2 separate regions of the Homo sapiens genome follow, and region 1 is linked to region 2. Evidence: fine-mapped expression QTL. Tissue or cell type: atrial appendage. Region 2 holds a variant in brackets; the other region holds the start of a gene. All regions are shown on one strand. Distances are between the middles of the regions.

Region 1 (7,575 bases), 490 kb before region 2:
CCTCCTACTCCAATCAGTGGACTTCAGGTAAATATTTAACAACTGGCTTTCCAAGAAAAAAAAAAAAACCATGATTTATAGCTTTGCCAATTTCTAGAGTTTTAATACTGCCATCATGGCCAGTTTCAAGCCAGCAATATGATGTCAACAAGTTCACTGAATTCCTAAAATTTGACAATTGATTCTCAAGAAGCCAGCATGAGCCAGCTGTAAGCACACCACTGCTTTCAAGGCTCAGCTTCCACATCTGAAAAATGGGAATCACACCACTTCCACATGGCCATTGTCAGGATCGAGATAATGTAAGAGAAAATACCTAATACATGGTTATTATCATACATGGGGTATTTGAGAAATGTTTGTTCAGTATTTACTGAGCACCTACTATGCAGCAGACACTTCCAGGAACTGAAGATTCATCAGAGAACAAAACAACAGGTCTGCTCAGCTGGGATTGATGTTCTAAATGGGAGAGACAACCAGAAAGAAAAAAGAGAAGGAGAGAGAGAGACAGATGATAGATAAATAAATAGCCAGTCAGTTAGTCTGGTATTGATAAGCACTAGAAAGAAAAATCAAACCCAATAAGGATGAGGAGAAAGAGGAGTGGTCATACTATGCCAGGTACGGTAGCCAAGAAAGACCTCACTGATGAGAGATATCTGATGAGAAATCTGAGTGGAATAAAGGCATGACTATGGGATTATATGGGGAAGGGTGTCCCAGGCAGGGCAAGAGCTCATGCCAAACCCTGGGGCAGGTATGATGGGCTGGGCTGACCCCAGAGACAGAAGGACGCCAGCGGGGTGGGAGCACCCGAGTGAGGAGACACACGTGGAAAGTGCAGTGGGAAGGGAAGCCAAGAGCAAAGGTGAGGCAGGGGAAGTCTCAAGCCCTGGCCATGTCTTAGGTGCCTTTAAACACCTGGAGACATAGTGGGCAGGGGCCAGTGACAGACGGGGCTGCACTCCTGCCCCTCTGCCTTCCTTACACAGAGGAGGATCTACCAACTGTGCTCCAACGGCCTCACTCCTTCATGTTTTCAACTATTCAAATGTTTGCTCAAATGACAAATATTGGCTCCAGTGGCTTCCATGGGCAGGCAGCAGTCTTAGCTCTAGAGACAGAAACTATGAGCAAAACTTGAAATCTTGCTTTTCATGGACCTACCTGGCCATGGAAGGAGAGAGAATACATCAAAACATAAATAAAGGCATTGGCTGGGCTACAAAGACAATCAAATAAGGTGGGCTGATAGAGTCCCCCTCTTAGATATAAAAATCCTCTTGGGCCAGGATCCTCCTGTCGCCTTATATTTCAATGCCTAGTTCTAGCATAGTCCTAACTGGTGCTCTGAGTAGCATTGCTCTAAACAATTGACCAACAGTAACCAAAGTAGGCTGGCAACAGTCCCAAGAGATCAAGAGAGCTCCCATTTTCCTCCTGGCATGAACTTTTTCAAACCACAAGGTTGAGGAAATGCCAACCTTTTACATAACTAAGAAATTTCTAAGACGTTGAGTTTTTTGTTTGCTTGGTTTGTTTTCTCTTTTTGTTTTTTAAACCTGCCACAAAATCATCTGGGGTCTTTATTAAATAAAATACAAATGTCTGGGCCCCGCCTTAGACTCACTGAATCAGAATAACTGGAGAAGGAGCCCAGGCAACTGTATTTTCAATGACCTTCTAAGGAATGTGGATGCTACATTGCTGATGCTTGAGATCCTCTGCTCTAATGCAAAAGTACAATCCACAAGGCTTCTTTCCATTTCAGTTGTAATTGTCTCCACAAAGCATTCTTAAGAAAGCTCTTCTGTAAACTTCCTTTGCAGAAACTGCAGCACTAGTCACAAGCTGACTGTTCAGAGAAATGCACGGGGAGACAGTGCCCGCATGACGGGAGCAGCCCATCAGCTGACCCGTTCATTCAAAAAACTCCACGTGTAGAGACACTGGATGGCTTTAGTGGAAGTGCCTCATTGTCTGGGGAGCTGAAGGAGAGACTTTCTGGAATATTCCCTACCTGTGAAGAGGGCATGGTAGTGGAGGCCCTTCTCCTTGTCCTGATGGGAGCAGACATCAAATAAGTAGGCTTTGATGGGCCCATCAATGAAGTCGGCAGCAAAATCAAAGAGAACGACACCTATCATGGTGACACTTATGGCCCAAACCAGCTTCCTCCTTGGGTTAGCAATCAAAGCTAAAAGAAAAATAAACATTGGTCTCCTAAATCCTGTTTTAGAATCATCCGCGTTTTGTAATTTCCACCTAAACTTCTTGCCATAAAATCATCTTCCTTGCTTTTATTTTGCTTTTTTCCAAATAAAAATAGCTTTACATTTTTTTTCAGGTTTTAAAAATTATGCAAGCGAATGTCCAGAAAACACAAATCTATGGAGACACAAAGTAAATTAGTGGTTGCTTAGGGCTGGTGCATAGGGGAAAAGTGGACGTGACTATTGATGGTAATGGGTTTATTTTGGGGGTGATGAAAATGTTGTAGAATTAGAGAGTGGTAATGGTTGCACAACATACTAAAGGCACTGAATTGTACACTTTTAATTAGTGAAATTTCTGGTATGTAAAATATCTCCTTAAATAAAAAAGTATGCATGCTTATCGCAAGCAATTCCAATTCTATTAAAAAAGCTGAGGGAGATGCTTCCAATCCCAGCCCCAGCAAAGGTCAGGCTTTAAGGCCTCCTTTTACGCACTTCTGCACATACAGACACACGTGTACAATGGTAGTCAAACGCAGTGCTTCTCAAAGTCTGGCATATTGAACTATCGCTTGTATGTCTTGTTAAAACACAGATTGCTGGCCCCATTTCCCAAGACTCTGATTCAATTGGTGGGCCTGAAGGGGGCCCGAGAAACTGCATCTCTAACGGTCTCTGCTGATGCTGAGGGGCAGGTCAGAGGCCACATCTTTGAACAGCACTGATGCAGTAACCAACTTTCTTCATATAATTTCAGCTCCTCACAATTTTTAACAGCTGGATTTTCATTCTACGGATACGCTGTAATCGTTTACCCAATCTCCTATAAAAGATACATTGTTGTTTCTCTTGTTTCCATTTGCTTTTTAAACTTAAGAATAGCATAGATTATATACACGTTTTAAAAATTGCAGTATAAAATTAAATGAACAATAAGTCTACCCGCCACTTCTCACCTCCTGTCCTTCAGTAATCCTCCTTAGAGTCAACAATGCTTATCAGCTTTTTGTTCATTCTCCTGGAAATATCCTACATTTGTACATTTACGCTTTCTTTCAAATATGTACAAATGATAATTGATTATCCTGCCTCATAATCACCGATTCTGCTAGCTTGAGAGTTAATGATCTACAAATGTGTGCTATTTTTAGCGATCCTTTTTGCAATGCAACTTTATTGTACTACCATCAATTACTGATTAATTGGTAGCTGATTAATGGCTAGAAAAAATGCCTACCCTCAGGTTTGCTTTTGTCCAGAATTTGCAATGCCAGAAAGGTCCTCTTGAGCTGATGGGCTTATGCCCTACGCCTATTAAAACGCTCTACATAAAACTATGAACAGAATTAACTTATTTGGATACACAGGTGACTTATTGTAAATATTTATGGAGCTATTTGGCAGCCAGTCAATTTGATAAGAGTATTAAATAGAGCATAATGGGCTCAAAAAGTAACTCAATTGATAAATATGTAAAAATATTCAATTCGATAAAATAGATACAAATTTAATAAAATAGATACAAATTTAATCCTATTTTTAAATCTTCACAACAATGAAACATATTTATTTTGATATTTCTAGAAGTAGAGGCTCCCCAACCACAGAATCTGGGCCAAATTTGTCAAAGGGGAAGTTCATTGTAACCTAGGAGAGATCAATTCTAACAAATTTCTAGGAAAGGTCAAACACATGAACATCCTCCTCCTGCAGAGGTACACACTAAGACACATATCCCTGTCTGCCCACCTTGTGCAGCCCACTTACCTGCTACAACAGTAGCCCCATTGAGGTACAGAGCCATGCCCACGAGCATCATGACTCCCAGGGTGAGGATGTAGGGTCTCCGGCGGCCCCACCTGGACCGGCAGTGGTCGCTGGCCGATCCGACCACGGGCTGCAGCAGGAATCCCAGGATGGGGCTGAGGAACCACACAATGCTGTACAGGCTGCTGGGCAGACCTACGCTGAGCAGGACTGGGGTCACATACGCTGCCTCCACCGCGTAGCAGAACTCTCTTCCGAACATGGCCATGCTGTGCATGATGAGTCTGCTGGTGGGTCTTTTAGGCGGCTCCACAGAGTCAAAGGGGCCATCATCAGCTAGGGATTTATAGATGTGGCGGCCAGCCTGCCCACTGTTGCTACCCATGGCCACTGGGAGAGGAACCTTCCTGCGAGCCCACCACCTCCTGCGTGGTCCTAGGGTCTGTGTTTCAAACTGGATTTGACGTGGAGCCTGGCCGAGCAACCAACAGAGATGGTCAGGCTGGGGGAGGGGCTCAAATTCTTTCCTGCCTCTAAGATCACAAGTTATGATGAGAGGGAGGGGGTGGTGCTGGAAAGCATGACAGAGATTAGCAGCTGTGAATCAGCCCTCTGGCTCCATAAGACGTTGGAATACTTTTCTAAAGGGATCCTCCTTTGTACTGTTCCCTCTCTCTTTCTCTCTCTCTCACACACACACACAATTACACGTGATCACACACATGGCTTCTCTCCCTCTCACACACACGTTATTACACGTGATCACACACATGGGCTCTCTCAGACAGTATTACACATGATCACACACATGGTTTCTCTCTCACACACACATGCTATTACACATGATCACACACGTGGCTTCTCTCACACACACATTATTACACATGATCACACACATGGCTTCTCTCACACACACGCTATTAAACGTGATCACACCTGGCTTCTCACACACACATGCTATTACACATGATCACACACGGCTTCTCACACACATGCTATTACACATGATCACACACATGGCTTCTCTCACACACATTACACATGATCACACATGGTTTCTCACATACATGCTATTACACATGATCACACACGGCTTCTCTCATGCATGTTATTACACATGATCATACACATGGCTTCTCACACACATGCTATTACACATGATCACACATGGCTTCTCTCACACACATTACACATGGTCACACATGGCTTCTCTCACATGCGTTATTACACATGATCATACATGGCTTCTCTCTCACATGCTATTACACATGATCACACATGGCTTCTCATGCATTTTATTACACATGACCACACACATGGCTTCTCTCACACACGTTATTACACATGGTCACACATGGCTTCTCTCACGTTATTACACATGATCATACATGGCTTCTCTCACACATTATTACACATGACAGCTTCTCTCTCACACACTATTGCACATGATCACACATGGCTTCTCTCACACACACATGCTATTGCACATGATCACACATGGTTTCTCTCTCACACACGTTATTACACAACGATCACACACGGCTTCTCTCTCATACACATTATTACACATGACCACACACATGGCTTTTCTCTCACACACACTATTACACATGATCACACATGGGGCTTTTCTCGTTATTACACATGATCGGACTCATGGCTTCTCTCACACACACATGCTATTACACATGATTGCACACATAGCTTCTCTCTCACACACGTGTTATTACACATCACACACGGCTTCTCACACACGTTATTTTACACGATCACACACATGGCTTCTCTCACACACGTTATTTTACATGATCACACACATGGCTTCTCTCTCACAGACGTTATTACACATAATTACATATGGCTTCTCTCTCTCATACACACATGCTATTACACATGATCACACACATGGCCGTGAGGTAATAAAGCCTTATTACATAGAGTTTGTCAAAATGTAAATAAATTGATATCTTTTCATAAACTTTTTATAAATATAGACATTCTATTTTTTACTACAAGTTTTCCACACACACAGCTCAGGAGTGAAATAACTAGATTTAAAATGGTGGCAGGTCACACCCTTCTTCAAATCATTAGCTGTGTCAGATCGCCCTGATATTTCTCCTCGTGGTACTTAACACATTTTACAATGAGATAATTCTGGGTTTATTCCATATCCTGTGTTTGTCTTTGATTTCCTCAAGAGCGGAGAACAGGTCTGTTTTGTTCATTATGGTATCCCCAGCAAGTATCATGATACCTGGCACCTAGTAGATCCTCAATAAACATTTGCTAAAGGAATTACTGAGTGAATAAACCATACACACTGCATTTTGTGCTGCCTGTCTGCTCAGATCTATTTCCTTTGGTGCTCTTTATCTTATGGGGCTACATTTCCAGGGTTCCCTTGTTTTCTGGCTTCTAGGTAGATTTGGCTAATGGGAGACACTGGTAGGAAGACTAGGGGAGAGAGAGAAGGAAAGAAGCCAGGATATTTCCCTAGATTTCTTTCTTCTCCCTGAGGTATTACTGCCAGTGTCTATGTCTCCAAGGTGGGTGCAGCAACTTTGGCTTCTGGGTCCAAGTACACCAGCTTTCCCATCACCCCTGCAACCATAGGAGTGGTCTTGGCTTCCTAGTTATGTTCCTATCAGGGTTGCCTCACTATCTTCTGGGCTTCTCTGCTCTTTCGTCACCAGTGGAATTCTTTATATTAAATTTCCTCTGTTTTAAAGACTTCGAGTGGGTTATATTTTCCTTGCTGGACCGAGTTCAAATGAAAAGTCTGAGTTGTAGGGAAAACATCTTTTTTATTATTATTATTTTTATTTATTTATTTAGAGACAGGTTCTTGTTCTGTTGCCTGGGCTAGAGTGCAGTGGTGCAATCCTAATTCACTGTGGCCTCAAATTCCTGGGCTCAAGTGATCCTCCTGCCCCACCCTTGAGTAGATAGGACTACAGGCACACACCACCATACCTGGATAATTTTTTTATTTTTATTTCGTAGAAACGGAGGTCCAGCCAAGTTCCCCAGGCTGGTCTCGAACTCTTGGCCTCAAGTGATCCTCCATGCCTGGGCTGGAAAACATAACCTTATGGGAAAGTTCCTAAAAATGGTTGAAGAACAAGACTGAAGGCTAGAATATGAAAGCTTAAATTCTGATTCTGCCCCTTCCTAGTTGCATATTCCTGAGCAAATATTTTCAACTGGTATTTCTAAAACTGTGCCAAGGCACCCAGGGCATTAGAGTGACCTCACAAGAGTATCTCAGAATATTTAAAAATTTGAACACACAAACACAATGAAACTCAACATCTGTCAGACATCACGTGAACTACTAGTGAGGTAGTTCATTCTTTCAACATAAGATTGCACTATAATCCTTCTGATAATTTCATATTTTTGTGAGACTGGGTTTTCCAGGCCATCTGATAAAAAATCAAGTACTATATGGACACCAACATGGAGCAGAAAATGAGGGCAGCAGTGTCCAATCTCATTCCAGGTGAGAAGTTGCACAGTGTCCAATAGGTGCATACATCTCCTTAGTAAGTAGTTGTGATTAACAATGAAATAGAAATGAAAAATA
Region 2 (7,575 bases):
AGGGCAGCCAGAGAGAAAGGTCAGGTTGCCTACAAAGGGAAGCCCATCAGACTAACAGTGGATCTCTCTGCAGAAACCCTACAAGCCAGAAGAGAGTGAGGGCCAATATTCAACATCCTTAAAGAAAAGAATTTTCAACCCAGAATTTCATATCCAGCTAAACTGAGTTTCATAAGTGAAGGAGAAATAAAATCCTTTAGAGACAAGCAAATGCCAAGGGATTTTGTCACCACCAGGCCTGCCTTACAAGAACTCCTGAAGGAAGTACTAAATATGGAAAGGAAAAACCAATACCAGCCACTGCAAAAACACACCAAAACATAAAGACCAATGACACTATGAAGAAACTGCATCAACTAATGTGCAAAATAACCAGCTGGAATCATGATGACAAGATCAAATTTACACATAACAATATTAATCTTGAATGTAAATGGACTAACTTCCCCAATTAAAAGACACAGACTGGGAAATTGGATAAACAGTTAAGACCCATTGGTGTGCTGTATTCAGGAGACCAATCTCTTGTGCAAAGACACATATAGGCTCAAAATAAAGGGATAGAGGAGTATTTACCAAGCAAAGGGAAAGCAAAAAAAAGCAGGGGTTGCAATCCTAGTCTCTGGTAAACAGACTTTAAACCAACAAAGATCAAAAAAGACAAAGAAGGGCATTACATAATTGTAAAGGGATCAATCCAATAAGAAGAGCTAACTATCCTAAATATACACGAACCCAATACAGGAGCAACCAGAGTGATAAAACAAGTTCTTAGAGACCTACAAAGAGAAGTAGACTGCCACACAATAATAGTGGGAGACTTTAACACCTCACTGTCAATATTAGACAGATCTAGGAGACAGAAAATTAACAAGGATGTTCAGAACTTGATCTCAGCTCTGGACCAAGCAGACCTAATAGATGTCGACAGATATCTACCCCAAATCGACAGAATATACATTCTTCTCAGCATCACATCACACTTATTCTAAAATTGACCACATAATTGGAAGTAAAACACTCCTCAGCAAGTGCAAAAGAACGGAAATCATTAACAACCTCTCAGACCACAGTGCAATCAAATTAGAACTCAGAGGCTAAAGCAGTGTTTAGAGGGAAATTTATAGCACTAAATGCCCACATCAGAAAGTGGGAAAGATCTAAAATTGACACCCTAACATCACAATTAAAAGAACTACAGAAGCAAGAGCAAAAAATTCAAAAGCCAGCAGAAGACAAGAAATAACTAAGATCAGAGCAGAGCTGAAGGAGATAGAGACAAAAAAAACCTTCAAAAAATCAACAAATCCAGGAGCTGGTTCTTTGAAAAGATTAACAAAGTAGATAGACCACTAGGCAGAATAGTAAAGAAGAAAAAAGAGAAGAATCAAATAGACACCATAAAAAATGATGAAGGGAATATCACCACTGATCCCACAGAAATACAAACTACCATCAGAGAATACTATAAACACCTCTACACACACACACACACACACACACACACACACAAAAAAAAAAAAAAACAACTAGAAAATCTAGAAGAAATGGATAAATTCCTGGACACATATACTCTCCCAAGACTAAACCAGGAAGAAGTCTAACCCCTGAGTAGACCAACACCAAATTGAGGTAGTAATTAATAGCCCGCCAACCAAAAAAAGCCTAGGCCCAGACGGATTCACAGCCGAATTCCACCAGAGATACAAATAAGAGCTGGTAGCTTTCCTTCTGAAACTATTCCAAACAATAGAAAAAGAGGGAATCCTCCCTAACTCATTTTATGAGGCCAGCATCAAAACCTGGCAGAGACACAACAAAAAAAGAAAATTTCAGGCCAATATCCCTGATGAACACGATGCAAAAATCCTCAATAAAATACTGGCAAACCGAATCCAGCAGAACATCAAAAAGCTTATCCACCATGATCAAGTCGACTTCATCCCTGGGATGCAAGGCTGGCTCAACATATGAAAATCAATAAACATTATCCATCACATAAACAGAACCAATGACAAAAAACACATGATTATCTTAATAGATGCAGAAAAAGCCTTTGACAAAATTCAACACCCCTTCATGCTAAAAACTCTCAATAAATTAGGCACTGATGGAACGCATCTTAAAATAATAACAGCTATTTATGACAAACCCACAGCCTATATCATACTGAATGGGCAAAAGCTGGAAGCATTCCCTTTGAAAACCAGCACAAGACAAGGATGCCCTCTCTCACCACCCCTTTTCAACATAGTGTTGGAAGTTCTGGCCAGAGCAATCAGTCAACAGAAAGAAATAAAGCGTATCAAATAGGAAGAGAGGAAGTCAAATTGTCTCCGTTTGCAGATGACATGATTGTATATTTAGAAAACCCCATCTTCTCAGCCTAAAAACTTAAGCTGATGAACAACTTCAGCAAAGTCTCAGGATACAAAATCAATGAGCAAAAATCACAAGCATTCCTATACACCAATAACAGACAAACAGAGAGTCAAATCATGAGTGAACTCCCATTCACAATTGCTTCAAAGAGAATAAAATACCTAGGAATACAACTTACAAGGGATGTGAAGGACCTCTTCAAGGAGAACTACAAACCACTGCTCAAGAAAATAAGAGAGAATACAAACAAATGGAAAAAGAATTCCATGTTCATAGATAGGAAGACTCAATATAATGAAAATGGCCATACTGCCCAAAGTAATTTATAGATTCAATGCTATTCCCATCAAGCTACTATTGACTTTCTTCACAGAACTAGATAAAACTGCTTTAAACTTCATATGGAACCAAAAAAGAGCCTGTATAGCCAAGACAATCCTAAGCAAAAAGAACAAAGCTGGAGGCATCATGCTACCTGACTTCAAACTATACTACAAGGCTACAGTAGCCAAAACAGCAACTGGTACTGGTACCAAAACAGAGATGTAGACCAATGGAACAAAACGGAGGCCTCAGAAATAACACCACACATCTACAATTGAGGGACATTCTGGCTATTACTCCTCAAAACTGGCTAAATACCTGGCTATTACTCCTCAAAACTGCTGTCATGAAATCTCTCACAGACTAGAGGAAACTGAGGGAACATGAGGACAGAATGAGATGTGCTGTCCTGAGTGGGATCCTGGAACAGAAAAAGGACATTAGTTGAAAAACTAGTGATATTAAAATACAGTCTGGATTTTGACAATAATGTGGAAATGCTAGTCTCTTAGTTTTGACAAACGTATCATGGTAATGTGAGATTTTAACCTAGAGGAACCTGGGTGAGGTGTGTATGGGAACTCTGTATCACTTTATAACTTTATTTATTTATTATTCATTTATTAATTTTTTTTTGAGACAGAGTCTCACTCTGTTGCCCAGGCTGGAGTGGAGTGGCATGATCTCGGCTCACTGCAACTTCTGTCTCCCAGGTTCCAGCGATTCTCATGCCTCAGCTTCCCAAGTAGCTGGGATTACAGGCCTGGGCTACCACACCCGGTTAATTTATTGTATTTTTAGTAGAGATGGGGTTTCACCATGTTGGCCAGGCTCGAACTCCTGACCTCAGGTGATCTGCCCGCCTCGGCCTCCCAAAGTGCTGGGATACAGGCGTGAGCCACTGCGCCTGGCCACTTTACAACTTTAACATAAATCTAAAATTATTCTGAAATTTAATAAAATTACAATGCTACCCTGTTGCTTCACCTCCCAAATTCTAGCCCGTTTTAGAACTGTTTGTAGGCTGTAGAATCTCTCATATCTGCATTATATTATGTACTATATTTCTGCTATATTGAATTTCTCCGGAGAAGAGCAAAATAC[A/G]GAATACCAAACCTCTCAAAGCTGTGTGCAAGTGCTGTTACATAGTATGACCACTAGATGGAGATCGTGTCCAGGTGGCTAAAACTTAGGCTTCCTTGACCAAGCAATGTCTTGGAGCAGAGTTCACAACCAAATCTCTTTTCTGAAATAATGCAATAGGCATGAATCTCAAGTCTCCAGATTCTAGGATGTAAGAAATACTAAAGGTCTTTGTTTTCTATAAATCCGCTTGTGTACTACTTCAGGAGCCAAAGAAAATGAAACTTCCGTCCTTCTTGGGGCAATTCTCTCTTCCATTTAACCCCAGGGAAATGAAAGGTGTCAATGTTCAGGGTTTTACCAATGAACTAGGAGCCCCTGCTGGCACTGGTTACCTGTTCTCAATGAGGACCACTGAGATGCTGAGACAGGAGATAGAAAGAAATTATTTAGGCAGATAGTGAGGGTAAAAAAGTCCTCAGCAAGGCTTCCCTTTTAACAAAAAGCAGCCCAAGAAAGCATTTTTTTCTAACAAAGAGCAGCCTGAAAATCTAGCTGCGAACATAGATAAGCAAGCTGGAAGCTTGCACGGGTGAATGCCGGCAGCTATGCCAATAGAAAAGGGCTACCTGGAAGCCAGGTATGTTCAACATGGAGGCTCCATCTTCCCTTTTCTTTGTCACCACGTGTACAGTAAAGAAATAGGCAACATGGCGCTGGCCAGGTAGAGAATTATTTGCATAATAAAAGATTAGCGTGGGGTCAGCAAGCTTTTTGGGCCCTATGCAAATGGCATACCTAGCCCTAACCAGTTTTTCGCACCTTATGCAAATGACACTAGTCCCACCAATCATTCGTACCCTATGTAAATCACACACTGTCTCCTCAAGCTCATCTATAAAACCCTCTGCATTTCACCACAGAACCGAAAAACCTGTTCAGGACCCCTATCTTCGCAACAGAGAGAGCTATTCTCTTTCTTTCGCCTACTAAACTTCCGCTAAGCTCACTCTTTATCCCCTTCCTAGTTTTCTGCCGCCGTGAGACAACAAATCTCAGGTATTTACCCCAGACAATGATGTTAATTCAATGTTCATTGTTCCTGCTCCCATGACCTCATCTGGCCTACGGCTGTCTTGCTTTAGTGTCAGGTTTGGAACCTGAGCACCTTGGCAAGGTTGGGGACCAAGGAACATAGGACAGGCCTCTCTGCTGTCCTTCTGGGTCCTTTCACATCCTCAGAGCACTCTTAGGACCCAAGGCACAGATGTCTTCTCCTCCCAGCACCCCAGGACTACTCTTTTGTTTATGCTGGCCTTGCGTCCCTCTCTTCCTCTTCAGGCTGCCCTCCAAGGCCCTCTCTTTCATTCACCTCTGTCCATCTAAAGGAAAAAATGGAGGCAGAATTGACATAAGTAGAGAGTTTATTTGGGCCAAGTTTGAGCACTGCAACCAAGGGGCAGAGACCCAAGTTGCCCTGAATCTATGCTCCCATTAACAGCAGTTACAAGTGGGTTTTTAAAGGAAGTGGGTTTTTAAAGCAGTTCCTAAGTTGCTTACCAAGAACTTACATTAAAATAACGTAAGCTATTGATGGGCTGTAGAATGTTCTTTGTGTCACAAATTTCAGAAACATAAAGACAATGGGTGAGGCAGCTCTTTGCTAGTTTTCTTTTCTGACATCAAACTCTATTCTCCTCAATGGATTTAAGCATCCATAAACAAATGTTAAGAGGAGATGGTTTGAAAGCAATACCTGCTTTCAACCTGCTATAAACCTTCCCTAAAGCAAAGAAGTACCAGCTGCTATTTTCCACAAAAGAAATAAAATGTAAACTCAAAATTCTTCAGTAAGTACCCTGTCACACCATGGAGGCACACCTCTGTGACCAGCTCATAATGGATGCCTCTATACCACCGTTTCCTATGCAAATAGGAAATAATAAAATAATAAAAATATTTAAAAATAATAAAAGCTGCTACTTGCTAGAAAATGCCTTCCTTTGTTACCTTCTCTCTGGATACCAACTCTGTGATAGACCTCAATAAGGATGAGGAGTGTCAACTCCCACAGAACAGATTGGTTGGGAAGTAACTGATCCCTGGATCGCTGCCTACGGTGGCCCTGCTTATGCAGACAGGTGGCAAAGTGAACCTTCCACAACCCTTGCTTCAGTTCATCTTAGTGAATAACCATTGAGCTTTTCCATAGGTAGAACAAACAAACGACCACTGTGATCACTGTCTAAGATTTACCCCCTGACCGTAAGGAGCTTATGCTTTCAGGGGAAGATGCATCCTTAATTGTGAGAAGGATCATGGTGTGGGTTCTCCAGTTCCACAATGACAGGTTATGTTATAGGAAGGGAAAGGTGATGCATCCCGTTGTCTTAAGAGTTTCTACCCTTCTCCAAAGGAAACAACAAAGCAGCAAGTGCCAAGTGCCCTTCCACCTGCTTCTAGATCAAGGCTGAGAACATTTAAGCAGGACTATCCCAGAAGGTAAACCAAACTGGTTTTGCCAGCTGCTGTGGATTGAATTGTACCCCCTACCCCTAAATTCAGACTTGGAAGCAGTAACGCTCGATGTGACTGTATTTTAAGATGGTATCTTTAAGAGGTAATTAAGGTTAAATCAGGTCATAAGGCAGGGCCCCGATCTGATAGGATTAGCGTCTTTACCAGAAAAGACGTCAAAGGCCAGAGAGTTCATGCATGTGGCTCCCCAGCCCCTCGGAAGAAAGGCTATCCGAGGATAAGGCAGGAAACAGCTCTCACTGGGATCAAGGCTGACACCTCGAGCCCGGACTTACCAGAACTGTGAGAAAGCACATTTCTGTTATTTATGCCACCCCGTCTGGGGTATTTGTGATGGCAGCCGAGCTGACTACCACACCACATTGCTTCATCACTCACCTGACACACACAAAGGGGTTGAGGCTGAGGAGGTCTAGGGGTACATTGATGTGGAGGATTAAGAGGGAAAGTCATGAGAGAATGAACCCTGACTTATGTCACAGGGGCTTAGAGGACACAGGAATCAGTGCCACACCTACCTTCGACATCTCTCTTCAGGGTCTGGTTGGAACAGGCAGAAGGGGGCAACGGCTGCGCTGGAGCAAGTGTGCGTGCTTGCTGGGGCCAGACGTGGCGCTGTGAAACAGAGCCCCTCTGAGAAGACTCTGTGGGGATCAAAATGCGACCCTGACGGGCCAGGCAACCAAAGCCCAGGGCCTGAGAGAGGAGTCAGAAGAAGCCCACCAGAAGAGAGGCGTGGTTGCTTCAGCTGACCTACAGCGGCAGGTCCCATGGGGGTCTGCAAGGGTCTCACACTAGCTGCCTGATACGGTTTGGTTTGTCTCCTCCAAATCTCATGTTGAAATGGGGTCCCCATTGCTGGAGGTGGGGCCTGATGGGAGGTGTTTGGGTCATAAGTGTGGATTCCTCATGGAATGACTTGGTGATCTCCTTGCAGTAATGAGTGGGTTCTTGCTCTGTTCCTTCAGGCAAGAGCTGGTTGTTTAAAGAGCCTGGCACCTCCTCCCCTCTCTCACTCCCTGTCTCATCAGTGGGACACACCTGCTCCCTCTTCACCTTCTGTGATGAGTAAAAGCATCCTAAGACCTCAGCAGAACCAGAGGCTGGCACTATGCTGCCTGTACTATCTGCAGAACTGTACAGGGAGGTCAATTATGTCCTGTCTCTCTTGGAAAATCTACATCTTATGTAAGGTAAACTAAACACATGACAAGAAGGAATGGGACAAGTCAATGAGGCATTCGTCTT

Alleles and levels. Alleles are on the strand shown, and positions count from the first base shown. SD is a standard deviation of normalised expression in the study named.
With allele G in place of A in region 2, the expression in atrial appendage of the gene that starts at base 4,481 in region 1 is higher (moderate effect, 0.55 SD a copy in GTEx).

What was found. PIP is the estimated chance that this variant, and not a neighbour inherited with it, causes the effect. A credible set is the group of variants that fine-mapping cannot tell apart.
Region 1: SLC45A2 starts here. The variant in region 2 is the best candidate, but not a certain one, in a credible set for the expression of SLC45A2 in atrial appendage (GTEx, PIP 0.56).

What each region holds. Positions count from the first base shown.
Region 1 is chr5:33,980,213-33,987,787 of GRCh38, forward strand. It overlaps SLC45A2 (solute carrier family 45 member 2), which reads right to left and starts at 4,481. Exons shown (of 7, transcript NM_016180.5): 1 at 3,987-4,481; 2 at 2,024-2,200. The coding sequence starts at 4,371. AMACR (alpha-methylacyl-CoA racemase) reads right to left here. Exons shown (of 5, transcript NM_014324.6): 5 at 5,953-7,575. It overlaps C1QTNF3-AMACR (C1QTNF3-AMACR readthrough (NMD candidate)), which reads right to left. Exons shown (of 9, transcript NR_037951.1): 9 at 6,774-7,575.
Region 2 is chr5:34,470,821-34,478,395 of GRCh38, forward strand. No RefSeq gene overlaps it. Among named protein-coding and RNA genes, the nearest start is that of RAI14-DT, 180 kb to the right of the region's middle. The variant A/G (reference allele first, on the strand shown) is at 3,811.